Linked DNA regions of Homo sapiens. The main gene of each other region encodes a partner of the protein of the gene in region 3 in a complex. Each region holds a gene or a part of one and is shown on either strand. Other genes may lie near its edges. A codon is read from its position in the direction of its gene.

Region 1 (7,270 bases), on a different chromosome or scaffold from region 3:
AACTGAGGCTCACAGAGCTGTGACTTGCCAGGCAGAGCCAGATATGTATGACTCCAAAATCCAAAGTTTTCATCATTACATTAAGAACTTCTCGCCGGGCGCGGTGGCTCACGCCTGTAATCCCAGCACTCTGGGTGGCCAAGGCGGGTGAATTACTTGAGGCCAGGAGTTCGAGACCAGCCTGGCCCACACGGCGAAATCCCATCTCTACTAAAAATACAAAAAATTAGCCCGGCACAGTGGTGGGCGCCTCAGCAACTCGGGAGGCTGAGGCACGAGAATCGCATGAACTCAGGAGGCGGAGGTTGCAGTGAGCTGAGATTGCACCACTGCACCCTGGCCTGGGAGACAAAGTGAAACTCTGTCTCAAAAAAAAACTAAAAAGAAGAAGTTCTTTCCAGCTGTTCCCAAAAGTTCTGTTTCAAATTTCAAAAAAGGACCACAACCAGGGACCTGGCTGTTTCCAGCCACGGATAACCTCCCTGAGCACAGCTCTCTTTCAGGGCACAGGTTCTCTCTCCTCCCACTCCCCACCCCCACTCATCTTCAGGGACACATTCATCTCACTGATAACAGTGGTTGCCTTATATCTCCTATCTCCTGATGTCCTTACCAGAACTTTTTCTTTTTTGAGATGGAGTCTAGCTCTCTCGCCCAGGCTGGGGTGCAGTGGCTGGAGTGCAGTGGAGCAATCTCGGCTCACTGCAACCTCCGCCTCCTGGGTTCAAGTGATTCTCCTGCCTCAGCCTCCCGAGTAGCTGCGATTACAGACGTGTGCCACCACACCCAGCTAATTTTTGTATTTTGAATACAGACGGGGTTTTGCCATGTTGGCCATGGCTGGTCTCGAACTCCTGACCTCAAGTGATCCGCCTGTGTCGGCCTCCCAAAGTGCTGGGATTACAGGTGTGAGCCACTGTGCCCGGAGTCATCACCAGAACTTCTAAGGCTAGCTTGTTCAACCCACAGCCCAGGACAGCTTTGAATGTAGCCGGACACAAATTTGTAAACTTTCTTAAAACATAGGCCAGGCACGGTGGCTCATGCCTGTAATCCCAGCACTTTGGAAGGCCGAGGCAGGAGGATCACGAGGTCAGGAGTTCGAGACCAGCCTGGCCAATATGGTGAAACCCTGTCCCTATTAAAAATACAAAAATTAGCCAGGCATGGTGGCGCACCTGTAGTCCCAGCTACTCAGGAGGCTGAGGCAGGAGAATCGCTTGAACCCGGGAGGCAGAGGGTGCAGTCAGCCGAGACCATGCCACTGCACTTCAGCCTGGGGGACAGAGTGAGACACTGTCTCAAAAAAAAGAAACACAAAACCATTATGAGATTTTTTTTTTTGCGACTTTTTTTTTAGCTCATCAGCCATCGTTAGTGTTAGTGTATTTTATGTGTGACCCAAGACAATTCTGCTTCCAATGTGGCTTAGAGAAGCCAAAAGAGTGGACACCCCGGTTTTTTTTTTGGGGGGTGACGGAGTTTCACTCTTGTTGTCCAGGCTGGAGTGCAATGCCGCGATCTCAGCTCACCGCAACCTCTGCTTCCCAGGTTCAAGCGATTCTCCTGCCTCATCCTCCCTAGTAGTTGGGATTACGGGCGTGTGTCACCACGCCCGGCTAATTTTGTATTTTTAGAAGAGACGGAGTTTCTCCATGTTGGTCAGGCTGGTCTCGAACTCCCGACCTCAGGTGATCAGCCCGCCTCGGCCTCCCAAAGTGCTGGGATTACGGGCATGAGCCACCGCGCCTGGCCTGGACATCCTTGTTCTAAGGGCACACACCCAGAGGTTTTGTACAAAATAAATGTCTGGTTTTGAATGTCCTAAGAAACGGAACCCAGCTCTTTGTTCACCTCTTTTGTGGGGCATGGAGGGGATGCCTTTTCTGATTTTCAACATTTCTCCCTCCTGAGACCTTCCCAGGGACCCCAACATTGGAGACAGGATAGCAAGAATATCAAATGCTTTCAAAACATTAGCTGTGTTTGGTCGGCCAACCTATTTGCCTCTGTCGGGAATGTAAAAGTTATCTATGGCCAGTCCTTCTTAGTTCAAGGTAGGTCGGCAAACAGCCTTCTCCTTCTGCACAAAAAGGGTCTCTAAGATCCTTCCGTAGCACCTCCATCCCAGTTATTTAAGATGAACTAAAAAGAGGCTACAAGGTAAATAAGAGTTACCGAAGGAGATGCCGGAGAGACTAACCTCCTTGCACAACCAGCCTTTTAAAATTAGGGATTTAGACACCACGGGCAGTTTCCCTCAATAAATTCTCAGGCACTGGAACCAGAGAGTAGGAGGATGAGGGGTGAGCAGGACGCGGAGGCCGAAACTGGAGGCGAGGCGGGCGCAGGCCCACGGAGCACCACCCCATCCCCTAAGCAGCGACTAATAAAGACGGCAGCCTCCGGAATCACTTTCGCCCCCCTCCCTGGCAGCTTCCCCACCGAGTCAGCAGCTTACTTAAGCACGCGCTGCCCAGAGATGCAAAAGGCCCCCTTATGACCACGGCGCTGCCCACCCAGCATTCGGGCAGCCTGGACTCCCACAAAACCCAGAGTTGCGCCCCAATCACCACCCCTTTGCAGCCCCTGGTTCCCTCCCCAGCGGCGCCCCACCACCCACCTCTCCCCTAAGGCCATTCAACTCAGTCCCTCCTCGGGGCCCCTCAGCTTTTGCCCCTCCAGTTCCTCCGTGTCATGACTCTCGCCCTCCTGAGCCTCCCACACCTGGCACCGCCCCCACCCTACCCGACCCCGGCCCGGCCTGGCCCCGCCGGCCTTACCTGGCGGCGGCTGCCGCTCGCCCTCAGCCATCTTGCTCCGGCCAGGAGCCGACCCGGATGCTTGCAGTCCCCTCTCGCCTTTCACTCTTGCACCCACCCTTCCTCTCCCCGGCTCCACCAAAGGCTCCGAGCTTCCTGAAGACAAGTGAGCGCCGGCCGGCTATAACCGAAAACCGAGAGTTAAAGTCACCACAGCGAAGACGGCCGCCATGTCGGTGCGGGGCGCTCAGGGAGCAAGCCTATTAACGGCCGGCGCGCGGCGGACGCGCGGAACCGGGCGACGGCCATGTCAGTGCGGGGCGCGCGGGGCGCATGCGCGCCAACGGCCGCCAAGCGCTAGGACCGCTCACGGCCGCCCGAACGTCGGGCGCCGCGACTGCCACGATTGTGCGGGGCGTCAAGTTTGGGTTGTGCTCAGCCATGTTTTTCCGGGACAGTCTCCTGTCCCGGAGTACCACCTGTCATCTTTGTGGGTGGTACTGACCCTAACCCAAGGAATATTAGAGGACATTCCCCGGTCAACATGGTTGTGTTTTCCTATCACTCTAAGAGTTAGGCTCAAGGACACCAGACGGAGTTGGAAAGGTGCACACCACTACCTCCAACAGCTTAGAAGACATGTGGGGACAGGGGAGAGACAGCTGGACGGTGACCTCCTCCTTCCTCCTCCACAGGTCTCAATGACTCGCCCTCGGCCCTGCCCCTCTGTCCCCGCCCGCCGTGGTCCCGCCCCCGACTCGCAGCCAGCCTACTGCGACCCGCTACCGGGCGACGCCCCGCCCCTCCGTCCCCGCCCCTCCTGTCCCTCCTCAAGGAGACTCCGCCCCATCGATGCCCCGTCCCCGCCCCACAGCCAACCTCCCGGGCACCGTTGCCCGCCCGGGGCCCGCTACCGGCCCAGGCCCCGCCTCGCGAGTCCTCCTCCCCGGGTGCCTTCCCGCAGCCCGCTCGGCCCAGAGGGTGGGCGCGGGGCTGCCTCTACCGGCTGGCGGCTGTAACTCAGCGACCTTGGCCCGAAGGCTCTAGCAAGGACCCACCGACCCCAGCCGCGGCGGCGGCGGCGCGGACTTTGCCCGGTGTGTGGGGCGGAGCGGACTGCGTGTCCGCGGACGGGCAGCGAAGATGTTAGCCTTCGCTGCCAGGACCGTGGTGAGTGCGGCGGATCCCGGGCCTGAGGGCCCTGGACGGCCTGGGCGGGCCGTGCGGTTGCGTCCGGGAACGGAGACCGCGTCCTGCGGCCGCTGTTCGACCCGGCCTCCAGCTGATGGGGTGGGGTCAGGCGGGCGTCCCAGGTTTGGCAGAGCAGGAGATTGGGGCGCAAGGTCAGAAGCGGGATTAAACCCACGTCCTGGAGCATTCAGTTCCAACGACCCAGGAAAGACAAGGGGGACCCCGGCTTCAGTTAGCACCCCCACCCTTAGACCCAGAGACAGGCCGGTAGGGGAGAGAGACCAGGAGCATCCAGACCCTAGCTCACTCTCCCAGTTATTCTCCGATTGACACACCCGTCGCACGCTTAGGCCAGAGCCACTCCTCCGACCCTGTCCAGTTGGTCACACTCCTTTGGTTTATCAGACGGTCCCTGGGGAATTGTGTGTGGCCAGAGAAACACGCGGAGGCATCAAGCTAGAAAGGCCTCAGAACTGGCAGGTGGCAGCCCCATGGTCTCCCTCCCCTCCAGCCCCCTTCCCCACCCTGGCTGTATCCTTCCCTCCAGCCCCCTTCCCCACCCTGGCTATATCCTCCCCTCTAGCCCCCTTCCCCACCCTGGCTATATCTACCCCTCAGTCCTCCCCGGTGAGCAGCCCGGATGCTAGCCTAATTTCAGTCCCTTCCGTCCCTGATCCAAGCATATGTTGCTGGTGTCTCACTCTGTCTCAGACACACACTACGGGGCCAGAGGGCGGAGGGTGCATCCAGGCTCAGGCCTAGAGGCTCTTTTAGGTGTTGCAACACCCTGAGCCTCCACCGCACCCTTGTCACTGTCTCCCAAGCTGCATCCATCCCACAAACAGCCTCTAGATCATCCTCCAGGACCATCCGACTGGACTGGTTACCTTCCTGCAGGGAAACTGAGGCAAGGAGGGACTTGCCCAGAGTCCCCTGGACCTGCTCATTCAAATCCAGCCCAATCCCAGTGTCCTTTGGTTTATTTTTCATACCAAAAGTCCTCCGCTCTTGGACCCTAGCTGAATGAGCCACAGCTCAGGAAAAAATGAGTGTTCGTAGAGGGATGGCTCAGATGGGTCCCAGGAGTCCTGGAGAGAAACAGGAAATAGGCAGGGCTTCTGGCTGTCCCATCCACTGATGGCCTTTTCCTGGTGTCTGCTCCCTTGCACCAACCCTAATTTCAGGACCGATCCCAGGGCTGTGGTGTAACCTCAGCGGCCAGGCAGTCTCTGTCCTCCAGCCAAGTTTTCCCTCATCAAAACGATCTTCGCAGATTCTGACAGGTGGATTTTTTATTACCTTTTGTCCTGACTCCCTGGCACTGAGCCCATGCAGAGAAGAAAGGAAAGAACTTTCCAGGTTCCCTTCTACTGGAATGCCCCCCCACTAGCCCTCTCACCTGCTCCCCATTCCTCTACTTCTGGGAGCTCGGGAGGGTGGAGCAGCTTCTAGAGTCCAGGAGCTTCCCCTGCCACTGCCACAACCCCCGATTCCACCACAGCCATCGCCACTGCCACCTGCCTCCCGCTGAATCTTGGCTCTTGTCTTCTCTTTCCAGCCCAGGCAAGTGGCTGCCTCTGGCTAGGTTCTGCTCACTCACTTTGTAGCACAGTTAGGCTTAGAGATCCAGCCAAGGCAGACAGACAGGGCCCAGAACCTCAGTCCTGCCATGGAGGAGGACGGGCAGCAGAGAGAGAAGGTATGGAACAGAGCTCCTGCCACTCGCCTGCCCACTGCAAGAGCAGCCTCGGGCCCTCCTGTCTCTGCCCACTCCAGGGCCTCCTGGACTTTCTCTTTCTCTCTCTGCCGCCTCTCACCCTCCATGCCAGGCCACCCGGCTCTCTCGCCACAGCACTGCCCTCACCCCACCCCTGCCCCATCTCAAAGGCAGGAGGAAGCCCAAGGCCCCTCACCCGAAGGTGCTGCCATTGTCTGGCTCTCTGTGATTCTCTCTTCTTCCCTTCTGTTTCTCAACCTGGAAAGGGTGGGAGAAAAGGACGTGGGGACCTCCAAGAGGGACAGTCACCACTCTGCTGGCTGGCTCCTCTTCCAGGGTGAGAAAGGAGGGGCCTGTGCAACCCAACAGGTGGGCGGTCCCCCTCACCTCTGCCACCCCAAAGGTGCCGTTCATCCTGACTTGGTTCCCCTGAGCCTTGCTAAGAACCATGGCCACACCCCACCCTCCCCCATCCCTACCTGCATCTCCAGGCCCCAGAGAGGCGGGGACACCTAGAGCTCTAGGGCTGGGAGGCCAGGGCCAGCCCCACCCAAGAGGCCGTCTCTGCCCCCAGGGATGGGCACTTAAGTGCCCAGGACTACAGCTTTGGGGCTGCCAGGGCTCCAGAGCCGGGGAGGGAATGAACAGGATGTTCTGCTACCTGCAGGTGAAGCCTCTGGGCTTCCTGAAGCCCTTCTCCTTGATGAAGGCTTCCAGCCGCTTCAAGGCACACCAGGATGCACTGCCACGGCTGCCCGTGCCCCCTCTCCAGCAGTCCCTGGACCACTACCTGAAGGCGCTGCAGCCCATCGTGAGTGAGGAGGAGTGGGCCCACACCAAGCAGCTGGTGGATGAGTTTCAGGCCTCAGGAGGTGTAGGGGAGCGCCTGCAGAAGGGGCTGGAGCGTCGGGCCAGGAAGACGGAGAACTGGGTGAGTGAGGGCATCCTCACTGTGACCTGCTGCTGGCTGCACATGCACAGTTCTCCAGTGCCCACTGCTCTGGCACGGCCGTTCGTTTGCTGCCCAGAGTTTCGTGAGCACATACTCTGTGTCTGGCACTTGGCAGGGTGCTGGGTGATCAAGAAGGACACAGTCACCAGCTCCTTGGAGCTAACATTCAAGTAGGGAGGAGAGAAAGGTAATGAACAGGATACAGGTTGTGGACAAGGTTTCATGTTCCAGGACAGAGGCAGGAGTGGGGTGCACGGCAGGTACAACCAGATAGAAGATGCCCTTGTGCTTGGTGGGACAGCCTCAGGCAGGGGATATGTGTCACTCAGTGACCGATCGCCCAGGTTCTGTATCTGATCTATGACACAGGTGTACCCAGTTTGGCAAATATGTCTACACCAATGTTTGGTGTGCTTTTCTATTTGCATCTCATACTTCAATACACAGATTTAAAAAGTGGCAGCTGGATGCAGTGACTCACACCTATAATCCCAGCACTTTGGGAGTCCAAGGCGGGCAGATCACAAGGTCAGGAGTTCGGGACCAGCCTGGCCAACATGATGAAACCCTGTCTCTACTAAAAATACAAAAATTAGCCAGGCGTAGTGGCACGCACCTGTAATCCCAGATACTGGGGAGGCTGAGGCA
Region 2 (7,000 bases), on a different chromosome or scaffold from region 3:
GGCGCTGTGGGACCCTTGTGACCTGCGGTGAGGATACTGTGGCAGTAGCAGGGTGGGGACAGTTGGGGTGCTGTCTGTGGGACCCTTGTGACCTGGGGTGAGGGTCCTGTGGGAGTAGCAGGGCGGGCTGTTTTCTCTGTGTGGACACTGGAGCTTGGACCCAGTCCTGGATTGATCCAGGCAGTCAGGATTGTGGGTGCAAAGGCCCTGAGCTGTGGTCCACTGGTATGCGGACTTCCTCCCTGGACCCCTCCTCCATGGCAGTTGGTTGAGGAGGACACAGCCCCGTCCCCTGAGTAGTTGATGGAGGAGGAGGAGGACGCAGCCCCATTCCCTAGGTAGTTGGTCAAGGAGGACACAGCCCTGTCCCCTGAGTAGTTGATGGGGGAGGACGAAGCCTCGTCCCGAGTAGTTGATGGGGAAGGACACAGCCCCGTTCCCTGGGTAGTTGGAGGAGGAGGAGGACGCAGCCCCGTCCCTTCAGTAGTTGATGGTGGGGGAGGACGCAGCACCGTCCCTTGGGCAGTTGATGGAGGAGGACGCAGTACGGTTGCTGATGCTGTTAACTGTTTCAGATGGTGTTTTAACATCACGGGATGAGATCAAATGTCCACCTCGCAGGTTGTGTAGAGATGCAAGCAGGAGACTCTTGAGTGAGTGTTCTGGGGCCTGCAGATATACTGGGTGAGGAGAGTGCTGGTGCTGAGTGGGGCCAAGAGCCCGTGGGCGTGGGCTGTGCACCGGGTGAGGGGCTGAGGCGTGTCCGCAGCAGTACCTGGTGGTCGACCCCTTCTCCTGGCTGTGTGGTTGCCTGCCCTGCCTCTGCCTCTCAGAATGTGAGTCTTCCGGGCTCCAGGGACAGGGTTGCCTGTGGACGGCACCTGTGCCTCTCCACGTCTGAGCTCTCAGGCGTCTGGGGTGCGTGGCTGCCCTTTTCCCCAGGTCCCTGCCAGGTGTGGTGGGGTCAGTGGTGTGGCTCATGGGAATCGGGAGTGGGTCCTGGCTGGGCTCTCAGGTGCCTGGGGCACGTAGCTGCCCTTGTCCCCAGGGCCCTGCTCGGTGTGATGGGGGCTCAGTGGCGCAGAGCCGCCACCCAGAGTGGGGTCCATGGCAGCATGGTGTGGCCTCCTGGGTGAAGGTGGGCCCTGCAGTGGAGTACGTGTGTGGTCCCCCGCAGGGATTGCAGTGTGTCCTCTCCCGGCTGGGATCAGGTGGCCTCAGCACTGTCGGCCCTAGAGAGGCCCCGTGTGTTGTCCGGGTGAAGAAGGCGTTCGATGCTCCCAGGTTCTAACTGAGCGCTGTCTGTCGACTCTTCAGGTTCAGACACGGAAAGAAGAGCCTCTGCCCCCGGCCACGAGCCAAAGCATTCCGACCTTCTACTTCCCCAGAGGACGCCCGCAGGACTCCGTCAACGTGGATGCCGTCATCAGCAAGATCGAGAGCACCTTCGCCCGGTTCCCCCACGAGAGGGCCACCATGGATGACATGGGCCTGGTGGCCAAGGTACGTGTCACGCGTGGGACGTGGAGCAGCCGAGGTGGTACTGCGGGCATGTGAGGGTGAGGCGGAGCGGCCGTGGTGGGTGCGTGTCACACGAGCGTGAGTGAGGCGGCACGGCCGAGGAGGGTGCGTTTCACACGTGTGCGGGAGCGGCCCAGGTTTTCTCTGAGGTTATAGTTGTGGTCTGAGGTTTGCTGTCTGGTTGCTGCTGTGTGAATTCTTAAGCATCTGAAATGCGAGTGGGAATTCCGTCTGCATTCTCATCCTGATGCTGTGAAGAGCGCAGGCCCGCCCTGTGCCACCCTCCCCTTCTCTCCCCTCCGGGGCCAGTGGCGCCAGCTCTCGTGGCTCTCGGAGGCCGTTCTGCACCCTCCTGGCCTTGCCCCTTTCTGCCCGAGGAGCGGCCATCCCAGGCTGGGCAGCTGTGGACCCGTCTCCTGGCAGCAGCCCCATGGGCCCATTTCTAGACTCACCCTGAGTGCTGCGGCGCGGCGTGCATCATTCGCCGCCTGCTTTCCTTCTCAGCTGCATGCTCTCCAGGCTGACCGCCTGGACGCCCACAGATGGAGCACACTCAGTTTAGTGTCTGTCCGTTACCAAGGCAAGGCCTACACCAGAGATGCGTGTCTGGACCCCTGGTGGGTGGTTGTGTTTCCAGGGACCTGTGCCCGCATCTCCAGCCTCCTACCCTCCAGGTGGAGTCGCTGGCCAGTGGATGCTCCCACCCCTCCAAGTCAGAGCCCCAGAGCCTCGGTGCACGGTACATGTGAGCCCCTCACGGTGAGACCCCTGCCCCCCAGCCCTCTCCAGCTCTGCAGCTGTGAAGGGGGTCCTCGGGAGTGAGCAGGTTTTTGTTTTTTGGGTTTGCTTGTTTGAGACAAAGTCTTGCTCTGTCACCCAGGCTGGAGTGCAGTGGTGTAATCTCGGCTCACTGCAACCTCCACCTTCTGGGTTCAAGTGATTCTCCTGCCTCAGCCTCCCAAGTAGCTGGGACTATAGGCATGCACCACCATGCCTGGCTAATTTTTATATTTTTAGTAGACATGGGGTTTCACCATATTGGCCAGGCTGGTCTTGAACTCCTGACTTCAAGTGATCCGCCTGCCTCGGCCTCCCAAAGTGCTGGGATTACAGGCATGAGCCACTGCACCTGGCCGGGTTTTGTTTTTTTAACTTATTAATACAGTCTATTAAATGAGTTGGTTTTGGGATGTTAAACCAACCTTGCATTCCTGGGATAAATTCCGCATGGTCGCTGTGTCTCATCTTTTTTATATGTTGCTGGATTCCAATAATTTTGCAACTGGATTCACAGAGAAGACAGTGCTTGGTAGTTTTCTTGTGAGTCCTTTGTCTGGTTTTGGTTTTAGGGCAATACGGGTCTGAAAGAACACATTAAGTGTCCCCGCCCTTTTTCTATTAGGGATTGTGTTTTTAAAGTATTTTAAAAAGTTTTGTTTTATAAATATGTAAAAACCTCCATGGTTACAAAGTGAGCACTAACAAACTAGACACATTCAGGTAAGTCCAGGTTCTGTCCCTGTCTGTGCTGTTTCTACCCCAGAGGTAATAGTTTCCATAGCTTTGGTTTATCCTCTTATTGTTATTTTAGCTTTTAATATGAGCAATTATGTACAAATATGTGTATGAGTATGAACATACATACTTCTTGCATTTCTTAGAGAAAAATTAGCATGCTGTTGTACACTTGCATATTTGTTTTTGCTAAGTCACTCCGTATTTGTAGAGGTGTCCCTGTCTTGTACGGCAGTGTGGGGCCATGAAAGGACCAGATAAGTCACAACCATGCAAAACCATCTTCCAGTAAAAATTAGGATCATTCTATAATCATTTTTGTTGAAATATTAGAAACTTTCTTACAGTCGGTTGCAAACATGTAGTGAATGAAAAGAACTAATATTTACCTAGTATGCTGTAACTTAAAACACCAGAAGCATTAAGAATTGTTTCATCTCTCAGTAAAAACTTGCCAAAAGTAGTTACAGCAGTGCCATCTCCTTGTCCCGTGTGGAGTGAGCACCTGCTCCGTGCCCTGGCAGACTCACTCGACTTAACACGCCTTGCTCAGCTTCCGCGTTTTATCCTTGGTGCTCTTGAAGTTGTGGGGTATCTCTGAGAGTTCCTTCACTGGGAGGTCTCTTTGCTGGCATTCCGTCTGCTGGGACACCTTCATCCTTTTCAGTACAGCCTCCGTTGTGTGGAGAACTCACCCTCGCGGAGTGCGCCCGGCCCCACCCACAGGGTCTCTGCGCGCCTCGGGCTGGGTCAGACACCTCTTTTGCAGCTCACGCGCTGCGTCCGCTTCGGGTCCTACAAAGCCGCTCGCGCAGCCCAGTGAGGTTCCTGCATGGGACCCATGTATTCCCCTCAGTGCTTCCCCGCCACGATGCCCCTCCCCGGCCGCGGTGCTTCCCCGCCAGGGCGCCGCCCCGCCCTCCCCTACCCCCGCCGCGGTGCTTCCCCGCCAGGGCGCCCGTCCCCACGGTGCTTCCCCGCCACAGCGCCCCTCCCCACGCGGTGCTTCATCCCCACGGTGCTTCTCCCCAACGGCGCCTCCCCCCACCGTGGTGCCGCCCCCCACAGCGGCCACCCCCCCTCCGCGGTGCTTCCCCGCCTCGGCGCCTGGTTCTCATGTGCGCGTTTCATGTCATTTTCCTTCCAGGACTCAGTTCTCGGTGTCACCTCGCTTCCACGCACAGCGGCACTGGCCTTGGTGGCCGTCTAAGGTAGTGAGGCTTTAAGACTTGAAAGAACCTGGTCCGTTGGCTGGATGTCACGTTTGGTGGTAAAAAGCAAGTTTTGTCGTTGTCTTCGACGCCCCAGAGAAGCAGGGTGACCTGGGTGTGACCCAGCGGGGCAGGGGAGAGCTCTGAGACTGAAGTTGTGTCGCTTGCAGCGTCTGCACCGCTGGGAGTCCGAGAGACACCTCCACAGGCCCCACTGTGCCTGCACGCACCGACCCGGCCCTGCAGGCGGAGAGCATGGTGCTCGAGCACCCACCGTGACTGTGGGCAGAGGCCAGCAGGGTGTGCGCTGTCGCGACTTAATCCACCTGCGCTGTGGCGGCAGAACCCTGTGAGCGTCCCGCGTGTGTGGGGGCCGCAGGCAAACTTCAGCTTCCCCGCCAAGGCTGCTGAGCCTGTCTCGGTGGCGCCCAGCTCGCCGCCACCTGCAGATGTCCGTCCACGTCTCCATCGTGTGCCTTTGGGACGGTTTTCTGTGAGCCGGGCCCCCGGCCCAGGGGACGAACGAGTAGGGGTGTCACTGCCGTTTCGAGTTCTCCCCGTCGCGTGAGTGACTGAATGAGGGCCTGGAGTCACAGCTCCACACGCGTGTTGTCAGGCGGGTGGACTTTGGCCGGCGGCTGCTTGAGAACTCACGTCTGAGGGGACTTTGAGTTTGATGAGGGGGGTCCCCCCGTGGATCTTAGCCGTGGCCGTGCAGCGAGGTCCGTGTGTGCCTTCTCCTGGCCCGGTTCTTCCTGTCTGTGTGAGTCAGGGCTGATCTCATACATCATTTCCTCCCTTTCATCATTGTCACTCCTCTGTGTTTTCTCTGAAGCCGTTTGAGACAGAGTCATCAGCTCCTTCACCTCCACCAAACTCCACCCCCTCAGCTGCCCCCACAGGAAAACACACTTTTCTCTTTGTTAATTTCCTTCAAACGTTGTTGGCTAATTCAGGGTTTTCATTTATGGAGACTATTTTGATGATTTACATTTTTTCTAAAAATTTTTTGCGTAACTTAGAAATTTCTTGCTCTAAAGCTTTTCCTTGTCTTGTACGATTTACAAAATCTTGATCGTATCTGCATCATACATAGACACTTTCTTGACAGAATCATTTATTTCCGGTTCCTTTCTTGATCCGTCATGCTACACACTAACGTATATCTCTTTCAGTAAAGCAGCTGTCAGTGTTACAGATTATTTCAGTTCTTTCTCTCATGAATATCTATGGTCATCTTTTTTACATACACTTCCTTCTGTCATTTTTTTTAGTTTATTGAATAGTTTTTTGTTTGGCCAGCTGTATTGTCATATAATTACACACCCTAAGATTCACCAATTTTAAGTGTACAATTTGATCCATTTTGGTAAAGCACACACCTGGGTATCCATCCTCATAGGCAGGACCGGCCGTTTGTCACCTGCCGCGGGTGTCCCACGTGCCTCCTTTTGCACCTCATCATTCCCCTCTTTTCTCCCTGGCCCGGGCCAGCTGCAGATGTGCTTCCGGTCGCTGTAGCTTTGCCTCTCTTAGAATTTCACATGAGGACTCTTGGAGCATTTTGTCTGTGGTTTCTAACTTCTTCCTGGCAGCATCTTTATTTTAAATTTTATTTTGAATGGACAAGTAATATTTGTGTATACAGGGTACAGCAAGATGTTTCGCTATGTGTGTGTGTTGAGGACTGATTAAGTCCTGTGGTGTGGATACTGTGGGGCTCGCTGTGTGGCTGGCGAAGGCGTGGTTACCGTGGGGCTCGCTGTGTGGCTGGCGGGGTGTGGATACTGTGGGGCTCGCTGTGTGGCTGGCCAAGGCGTGGTTACCGTGGGGCTCCCGTGTGGCTGGCCAGGGTGTGGATACTGTGGGGCTCACTATGTGTCCCTGGCCGTATGGGCAGTTTCTTTTCTATCACTGAGTAGCTTCTGCTGTGTGTGTGCTCCATCTCTCCCCTGTTCCAGGGTTGATAGACGTCTGGTTGCTTTGGTTTTTGCTTCTTGTGAGTAAAGCTGCTGTGTGTCTGTGCACTGATTTACGCAGACATGCTTGCATTTTCCTGAGGTGATTAATACCGCAGAGGTGAGCTCTGCCTCATCTGGTGGCCACATGTTTAGTTTTGTAAGAAGCTATAAAACTGCTTCCAGGGCCCAGGAGTGGTGGCTCACTCCACTAATCCCAGCACTTCGGGAGGCTGAGGTAGGCAGATCACCTGAGGTCAGGAGTTCGAGGCCAGCCTGGCCAACATGATGAAACCACATCTCTACTAAAAATACAAAAATTAGCCAGGTATGGTGGCGGGCACCTGTCATTCCAGCTACTCGGGAGGCTGAGACAGGAAAATCGCTTGAACCTGGGAGGTGGAGGTTGCAGTGAGCCAAGATCGCACCACTGCACTCCAGCCTGGGCGACTGAGCAAGACTGTGTCTCTACGCAAAAAAACAAAAAACAAAAAACCCTGCTTCCGGGGTGGCCCTGAGTGACGCATTTCCAGGCAGCAGCGTTGACCCCTGCGGGCACGTGGCCACACGCTTTGCCTTTAGCCGTTCTGTGCGTGTGCAGGCGTCCCGTCCTGGCTGCACTCCTCATTTCCCTGATGTACGTGTTGACCACCTTACGTGTTTCTTTCTCATCAGTTTGCCTTTTTTTCATTTTGGGGCAGCTGTGTTGAGATATAACTGATGTGGGATGCATGGTGCGTGTGGAAGGTACAATTCAATGAGCTTTGACGTCTGTACCCACCCATGAAACTATCC
Region 3 (7,919 bases):
CTATTTAAATATTTCCCCTTCAAATCAGGCATTTAGGTGGGTAGAAGGAAGGCTTTTACATTATCATTCCTTCTTATGATTGAAGAAATTATCAACTATTAACAAGTATCTTTTTTCTCAAAAAATACTATTATTATACACTAATGAAAAAAATTAGCCCTCAAATTTTCAAAATTACTCTTTAGAAGGCAATCACACCAAAAAGCACATATGTAGCTTTCACCCAGAGATGCCATTGGCACACAAATATTAACAGTGAAAGACAGCTTTTGTTTTACTAGAAAGACTTGTACAAAAAACATCAGTTCATGGATTCTACATACCCAAAAAACTGTCTTCAAATTAATTTAGTTTGGAAGTTTAATATCATCCTGAAAGTTGAAATACTTACTTACCAGTTATAAACAGTATGAAGGTTGTATAATGATATCCACCAAAACGGATCCATTCCACAGAAACTTTTATATAACACCTACTCTCAAATATTATTTCCATCTTTTTTGGCACTCAGAACTAAAATTTGCGTAAGCAGCGCAAGCAATGGAGATTTACCTCACTACATCTTAGTTTTACAAAGATGTGGAAAGCAATATTAGATGCATCAGCTTCACCCACCCCACTCTAGCATCCAGTATTATCTTATCTTCTACAACAGTTTCCAACACAAACCCTCTACTTCCATGCTCCATCTCCCACACCTTTTCATACCATGCTTTTCTTTCAAACTAGATTCATAGCTCCTCGACAATAAGCATACTTATTCTTCATTGCTTTTCATTTCCCTCAAAAGAGTATGCAATCTTAGATATTCAATAGATGTTCAATATTAAACACACTACTAATTTAAAACGGAATTGACTGTATAATCTCAGAACACATTTTAGTTTATAGACAGGAAAACAAGGACAAGTGAAGTGGCTGTCCCAAAGTCTGTCACAATTACTCAAGTAAGAGCAGAAGGACTCATGTCCAAATCTAACTCGCAGTCCAGTCTTCCAGTTACGTCATTACCTCCCTCCTTTCCACGTTTTCTTCAAAAGACTAGTCAACTGGCCAACTACTGACTTAAAAGTCTTTCATATAATGCACTGAATTCCAAAAATCGGTAAGATCATCATGTACAGTACCTAGAAATTAAGACCTGGCAATATACATTCATTTTTAAAGGCCAATTTTAAACCTTTAAAATAAATACCAACCTCATTTGACGTGAGAGGGTAAAGAAACAGGAGATTCAATACATCGCTACCATTAAAAGGCATCTCCAACAGATGATGTGCCACCTCATCCACTAGTAGTAGTTTTGTTCAGGCTTGGGAGAAACAAATCTAAATCTGACTTACTTAAATTCCAATTGTTCACAACATGGTTTCTAAAAAAGCCTGTCTTGGAAACATATACGTCAAACTCATGAACCTAATTTTCACATCAAACCAGAAACAAATCAGGATAATAGTTCTCCATTAATTCTTTTCACGGATACAAAATGCTAATATGATACTCCACTATTCTGTACTAAAGTGACGTGCTGCAAAGTTAATTTTGAAAAGGGAAGTTAAAATGTTCACAGCAGAGATCAGCATTTTGTGTACTTTAGAAAACTGAGTTACAAGAATTTAAAAATACAACACAAAGCTAATAGCTAAATTAACTACCTGTTTCCCCAACCCCCAGGGGAAAACAAAAGGGAATTAGCTAATATAAAGTTTAGTGTTACTAAGTGGACTACAACATTCTATTTTCAGTGTATGTGAGACATTATTTAAACACTAAGCACAATGTCTGGAATACAATCTCAGTCGACAGTTATTATCACTACTACTACTTGCAGCCACAAAATACTATCAAGTAATTTTTGCAACAAAGATACAAAATTTACCGCTCTTCCATTTTATGTTGTTCATTTTAAAAATAAACGGCAAAATGCCAAGTGTGTTAAGCTTAGAGAAGGCTTTGAGTCAGCATATAAATCATATTCAACCGACACTTGATTTCCAATCCAAAAGCTCCTTATGTAGTATGACTCACCAAATTCCCGATTTCTTCCAACTATGAAAAATAAGTTACACTCCTCCCTTATAGCTACCACCATGACCTTCGTAAAAATTAGGTTAAGAGAATAATTTAAAAATTCTTAAAGACACCCCTTACCTTGATTTCTGGAGAAGATCGCTTGGTGAGTTTAATACAAACCACCAAGGGGTACTAAAGCTGTGTGACCTTTAGGTATGTTCTGGGATACGGCCTAACAAGACTGCCTTTGGGGGATCCTCTGGGCAGCTCTGGACCTAACTAGGCCTGGGTACCAGCGGCAAGACTCTTACTCAGCCCACCGGAGAGGCCCAGGCTCCATTCCCAAGCCGCAGAATCCAAGCCAGCTCACCCTCAAAACCGTCCCTGACGATGACCCACAGGGTCTCCGCTCCCCCTGCCACCTCGTCTGGCGCCAAGGCCGGCTGACTCAAAAGCCCAGGAGTCGAGTGAACGGCGCCATTTTAGGCGGCGGCGGCAACCAATCCCTGCGCGGGAGGCAGGGGGCGCCGGGTCGTTAGGAAGCCGCCGCCGGCCAGGATGGGCGCCGGTCTCGGAGACTCGGGGGGCCCGGACCGGCGGCCTCCGCCATGTTGCACCCTCCTCACGGCCGCCTTTTCCTCGGCGGGCTCGGCCCCGCGGCGGCTGTCCGCAGCCGTACTACAGCTCACCTTCTCGCAGAGGCTCTTGACCTGGGACTCGGACAGCTGCTTGCACTCGTTCAGCTGCTCGATCCACTGGTCCAGCTCCTTGGTGAACACCTTCTCGTCCATGATGCCACCCGCCCCAGCCGGCTGCCGCTCCGCGCTGCTCCCGCGCCGCCGCCCGCACACGGGCCTACACGCACACGCCGCCGCCGGTTCCTCGTGTACTTCTGGCGGCTGTTGAGGCTGGCGCTGGCCCGCTGGCTCTCACCGCAGTACTCGGCCGTCGGCCGCTGCGCCTCCTCCTCCGCTCGCTGAGGCTCCAGAGCTCGGCTCTCTGTAATGGCGGCCGCCGGGCGTGGTGACGTCACGCCCGGCGTCAGGAGGCGGCGGGGAGCGGAGGGGAAAAGGGCCGGGGAGCAAGCTGCGCAACTGCAGAGCCCTCCCCGGGCGGCCGCACGACCGGAGTTGGGGCGCAAACTGGGGGTCAAAGCGCAGGCGCGACGTAGCCGGCTGGTAACTGAAGCGCCTTGACTTTTTGGGCGTGGCTCCCGGAGGGCGGGGTGGTGGGGGAAGGGAAGGATGGAGCTGGAGCATGCGCAGTGCGCACAGCGGCGAACCGGACTAATCCCTGAGCACTATTCCAGGAGAGGCGAGGGCTTGGGCCGCGCGCAGGCGCAGACCGGATGGAAGCCGGGGCCACTGGCAGCCTGTAACTGGTTCCCCTGGGAAGGCCGCTCTGGTGATGAACTCAGCTCCTCACCTGGGGCCTGGCAGTCCGATCACGGAAACGAGAATTGCGACCCCGTGGCTCATCTGGGGTGCTGCGGCTCTGTAATCGTGTGGGTTTCCGTCATCTTTGGGGGCAGGAACGGGCAGCGAGTGGCCGCTTGGATTAACCACCCCCACCTCTGGGCGCGGCTGGCACCTTGTAATTAGGTCACTCGTAGGTGGAGGAGCGTGTACCTACCGGGGGAGTGCTGCGCAGTGCACCTGACTTCCGCGGCACACACCCGTCCCCGGACCTAGGTGTCTCGTCGGGCGCGATGGCGGGGGCGAGGCTTGGGCTTTTCTTTGGGCCTCGGACCGCGGCTCGCTTCCACGCGCCCCGCTCCTCGCCGGTGGTTGCTTTCCTCCAAGTTTAATTCTCTCTGGGAATGAGAGACCCTCAACCCCTGCGCGCCCTGGCCTACTTTCAAGAGGGGAAGCCCAGAGAAGATGGATGCACCTGTCCTGACCGCGTCTCGGTGGCGTGAGAAGCAGCTGTGATACGTGCTTAAAAGAGAGAGCTCGTATACCCTAGGATTGGACCTCTGTCTGGTTATGAATCGCTTTGGAGTTTGCGAAACGTTTTCACATTCCATTGTCCCTGCTTTTACATAAATATCTGGTTCCATAGAGCGCCAGCTATATGCCAGATCCGGAGGGGTCATCCAGACGGACCAGGGACCATGCCCTGGAGCTTGTATTCTCCCAACAGTACTGGCTGAAGATGGTTTGGGATAGGCAGAAGAGAGATCATAATGCCCCCAGGATTTGAAAGATATAGAAGCTTTCCAAAGAACATTTAACCATAAAGGGCAAGGCAAGAGCTGAACCTGATCGCCTGTCTTCCAGGAACCCCACCCTCAGTATCAGGCAACCCTTCCACACCCAAGTGCTCAGCGATGCTTGGGAGGAGACTGCTCACTCTGCGGCTCTGAGGGCATCATCCCCACCAACAGGCTGAAGAAGGCACTGGAGGCCCCATCAGCCAATAGCAGGACTGAAAATCCTCCTTTATCCAAGACAACGTGTTTGGCAAGGCCGACTGGCTTGGCCTCCCTAGGCTGGAAATTGCAATTCTGCTTTCCCTTCACACCTCCCATTAGTGTGCACAAAAGAAAGTACCTTAAATCTACTCTTCTAGAAGTCTTATCACATACTTAATTTACCAGACTGGGAAAAAGACCCTTTAGCCCAAATTCTGTCCCTGTTTTGCAGTTAACATCCCCAAACAATAGAAGGGTAAGAGTTAAGACCAAGTGGAATGAATAAGGAAAAAATCATCACTTAGTGCCCGTGATTATAAAGCCATACCCAGTGTGCTGTCTAATCTTATTCTTTACCGTTGCCATGAACCTGTGTGAGAACTGTCTGATGGGGCAAGAAGCAGACAGGCACTCAGAAAAGAGAAGGGACTTGCCTAAGATAGTGGTCAGGATTTAAAACTGCACACTCCCAAGTACAAAGTCTCAGCCACAGTCATGCAGTTGACCTTCCAAGGTCTGACATATGGAACAGAATCAACATTATTTCTCTTTGCCTAGATTCTCTCTCTTTTTTTTTTTTTTTTTTTTTTTTTTTTGAGCCAGAGTCTCACTCTGTTGCACAGGCTGGAGTGCAGTGGTGCAATCTCGGTTCACTGCAAACTCTGCCTCCCAGGTTCAAGCAAATCTCCTGCCTCAGCCTCCCAAGTAGCTGGGATTACAGGCACCCGCCACCATGCCCGGGTAATTTTTATATTTTTAGTAGAGACGGATTTCGCCACGTTGGCCAGGCTGGTCTCAAACTCCTGACCTCAGGTGATCCGCCTGCTTCAGCCTCCCAAAGTGCTGGGATTACAGGTGTGAGCCACCGCACCCAGCCTGCCTAGATTCTCTTACCTGGAAAGGGTGTGGTGATGTTAGTTTGATAGATGATGAAGTATTGAACACCCACTGTGTGCTAAAATTATGAGTTTTTCCAAAGTACTGTGAGCCCCTTGTTGGTAGCATTAATGTAGGTGTTATTTATTTTCTCTTGATGCAGATTACTTGGCTCACCACCATCACAAAATGGAGGGAAGATATAATAATTATATGTACTTAAAACATCCTGCCAAATAATTAAATGCCATGACTTAACTTCTTAAGGAATGAATTCTAGGAAGCTCTTAGCATCAGACAGTGAAGTAAAGCATACATGATCATAAACAATACAGAAGTAAATTAATCAGGATATATTTTTCTTTAGAAGAAATTCAGATTGTGTATTCTGTAGAACAAAATATCTAATGGACATGAAAATGAAAATTCATTTTGACTTATCTGGTCTTGACTAATTTGACCTCACTGACTCAATTCTAGAGCTGAAGAATATTTGGAACAAAAAATTTAAAGCAAACCAAAAAGAATTGTCTTTTTAATTTATTGGGAAACACCAGAGAGTAAATAAAGCAAATATGCTTTGAGAAAGAATCTTTGCTCTGATGGCAAATTCAATATACAGCAAGTCTGAGTGTTGCCCATGATGTTTAAACATAGCTATAAATAAAAATCATCTGATGATGGGGGCGGGGTAGGAGGAGGATAACCTTGAGCAAATAGCTTTATAATAGGCACCCTACCCAAGATACAAAAATTGACATTAAACATGGAGTAGGAATGAGATATATCTTGTCAGCAATTCTCTTGGCATTAAGTTAGGTTTATTTTTTTGTTGTTGTTCCTTCCAGTTCCCTGACTTCTAAACTTACTGAGACAGAAAGTAGACCAGTGTCAGAAACGACTCTGGAGTCAGATGGAACTGGGTTTGAATTCTGGTTCTGCAACCGCCTAGATGTGTGAACTTTGGCAAGTTACCTAACTTTTCTGAGTCTTGGTTTTCTCATCTATAAAGTGGGAATAATTATAATAGAAAAATAATAAGGTTATTCTGAGAATTAAATGAAATTATAAATAAATAAAACCAGGCTGGGCGCAGTGGCTCACTTCTGTAATCCCAGCACTTTGGAAGGCTGAGGCAGGTGGATCACCTGAGGTCAGGAGTTCGAGACCAGCCTGGCCAACCTGGCAAACCACCATCTCTACTAAAACTACAAAAAAATTAGCCAGGTGTGGTGGTGTGTGCCTGTAATCCCAGTTACTCAGGAGACTGAGACAAGAGAATAGCTTGAACCCGGGAGGCAGAGGCTGCAGTGAGCCAAGATCGCGCCACTGCACTCCAGCCTGGGCAAAAGAGCAGGACTCTGTCTCAAAAATAAATAAATAAATAACACCAAAATAGTATTAATTAATGTATAATAAGTGCTAGATGTTGTTATTTATTATTATAATTTCTAAGTGGGCTTGGATTTTAAATACATAACCTCTAATGCCAGTTGGAGTCCTTCATATCTGCAGTGAAATACATAGTGGTGTTAGGAAACAGAAATAGAGGTATCAAAAATATGTAGGCCGGGCACAGTGGCCTGTAATCCCAGCACTTTGGGAGGCTGAGGCGGGTGGATTACTGAAGGTCAGGAGTTCGAGACTAGCCTGGCCAACATGGTGAAACCCCGTCTCTACTAAAAATACAAAAATTAGCCAGGCGTCCTGGTGGGTGCCTGTAATCCCAGCTACTCGGGAGGCTGAGGCAGGAGAATTGCTTGAACCTGGGAGGCAGAGGTTGCAGTGAGCTGAGATCACGTCACTGCACTTCAGCCTGGGTGACAGAGTGAGACTCTGTCTCAAAATAAATAAATAAATAAAATAAAAACATCATGTAAACACAAAGCCATTGGATGAAGTGGGGATGAAGGAGGAAATTCAAGGAGAGGTAGAGATGGAATAAACAGAACAACTCCTCTCTTGCCTTGCCATCCATTTAGACTTGTTATATAGAGAAAAAGTTACTTAGGACTAAATCCAAGAATTAATACAATCGGTCCCATGCTCCTGTCAGCTCAGAATCTTACATCTGAAAAGGGTGCCATAGTTGAAAAGGATAACATGCTCTTTGTACCAAGGCCTTTTATGCCCCAGAAGCCCCAAAATGAAGTCCTGAGCAGTCAAAATCTTAGTGGCTTTGGCCATGGAAAGCCTGCCATGCTCTGGCCAACGACGCCTGCCCAGCTACCAGACGATTTCTGCACTCAGCTTACACAATGATGCCTGCAGCTCATTGGTATCTGTCTCTGTTCTTTGTAGTTTTCAGAAAAATTAAGTTTATATTCCCCTTTCACCTGGAATTAGAATTTTATAAATGTAGCCAAAATTTTGTGGCCAGGAACTTTGCCACAGATATACTGCCTTTTCCTCCAGCTTCTACAGTCCGGCTAAAGAAAAAAGAGAGAAATGACCATGTCCCCTGGTGATGCCCCTGATGTCTGGATAGTATTCTCAGTTACAAAAGGAGACATTTTTCCATTACAGGAAAAAAAAACTCTGAAATGGAAGGCAAAGTTCATCACTCCAGAAGGCTGGGAAAACCTTAATACTGTCACCAACTCTGTAGCTATGAAAA

Evidence for each region.
Region 1: the proteins of PPP2CA (region 3) and PTPA are in contact, whole or in part, in a crystal structure (PDB 4LAC), measured with the Homo sapiens proteins. Residues at the interface, in NP_002706.1 of Homo sapiens: Arg89, Gly90, Tyr91, Gln122, Gln125, Val126, Tyr127, Gly128, Asp131, Glu132, Arg135, His191, Asp205, Arg206, Pro213, Arg214, Gly215, Gln242, Leu243, Val244, Met245, Asn249, Asn264, Cys266, Tyr267, Arg268, Cys269; in NP_821068.1 of Homo sapiens: His31, Thr32, Val33, Ser133, Arg134, Phe135, Lys138, Arg141, Asn180, Thr182, Arg183, Arg235, Glu237, Pro238, Gly240, Ser241, Gln242, Gly243, Val244, Trp245, Asp248, Asp249, Phe250, Phe294, Ile295, Met298, Lys299, Thr300, Ala304, Glu305.
Region 2: the proteins of PPP2CA (region 3) and PPP2R3B are in contact, whole or in part, in a crystal structure (PDB 4I5L), measured with the Homo sapiens proteins. Residues at the interface, in NP_002706.1 of Homo sapiens: Cys20 (codon at 2,747), His63, Tyr91, Tyr92, Arg135, Lys136, Tyr267, Arg268, Arg294, Arg295, Gly296; in NP_037371.2 of Homo sapiens: Met410, Leu432, Asp436, Cys439, Gln440, Met441, Leu442, Asp443, Leu444, Lys446, Glu450, Gly451, Lys462, Leu463.

What each region holds. Positions count from the first base shown.
Region 1 is NC_000009.12:129,107,145-129,114,414, reverse strand, and holds the start of PTPA (serine/threonine-protein phosphatase 2A activator), read right to left. Parts: upstream 3,001-7,270; 5' UTR 2,944-3,000; coding exon of another isoform or gene 2,815-2,943; coding exon 2,784-2,814; intron 2,728-2,783; exon of another isoform or gene 2,624-2,727; intron 1-2,623. Other genes in the region: CRAT (carnitine O-acetyltransferase), read left to right, coding at 5,283-5,312, 6,338-6,601. UniProt on the Homo sapiens protein: PPIases accelerate the folding of proteins. It catalyzes the cis-trans isomerization of proline imidic peptide bonds in oligopeptides. Acts as a regulatory subunit for serine/threonine-protein phosphatase 2A (PP2A).
Region 2 is NC_000023.11:355,908-362,907, reverse strand, and holds part of PPP2R3B (serine/threonine-protein phosphatase 2A regulatory subunit B'' subunit beta), read left to right. Parts: intron 1-575; exon of another isoform or gene 576-653; intron 654-1,317; coding exon 1,318-1,503; intron 1,504-7,000. UniProt on the Homo sapiens protein: The B regulatory subunit might modulate substrate selectivity and catalytic activity, and might also direct the localization of the catalytic enzyme to a particular subcellular compartment.
Region 3 is NC_000005.10:134,223,058-134,230,976, forward strand, and holds the start of PPP2CA (serine/threonine-protein phosphatase 2A catalytic subunit alpha isoform), read right to left. Parts: upstream 3,017-7,919; 5' UTR 2,805-3,016; coding exon 2,703-2,804; exon of another isoform or gene 2,700-2,702; intron 2,498-2,699; exon of another isoform or gene 2,152-2,497; intron 1-2,151. UniProt on the Homo sapiens protein: Catalytic subunit of protein phosphatase 2A (PP2A), a serine/threonine phosphatase involved in the regulation of a wide variety of enzymes, signal transduction pathways, and cellular events.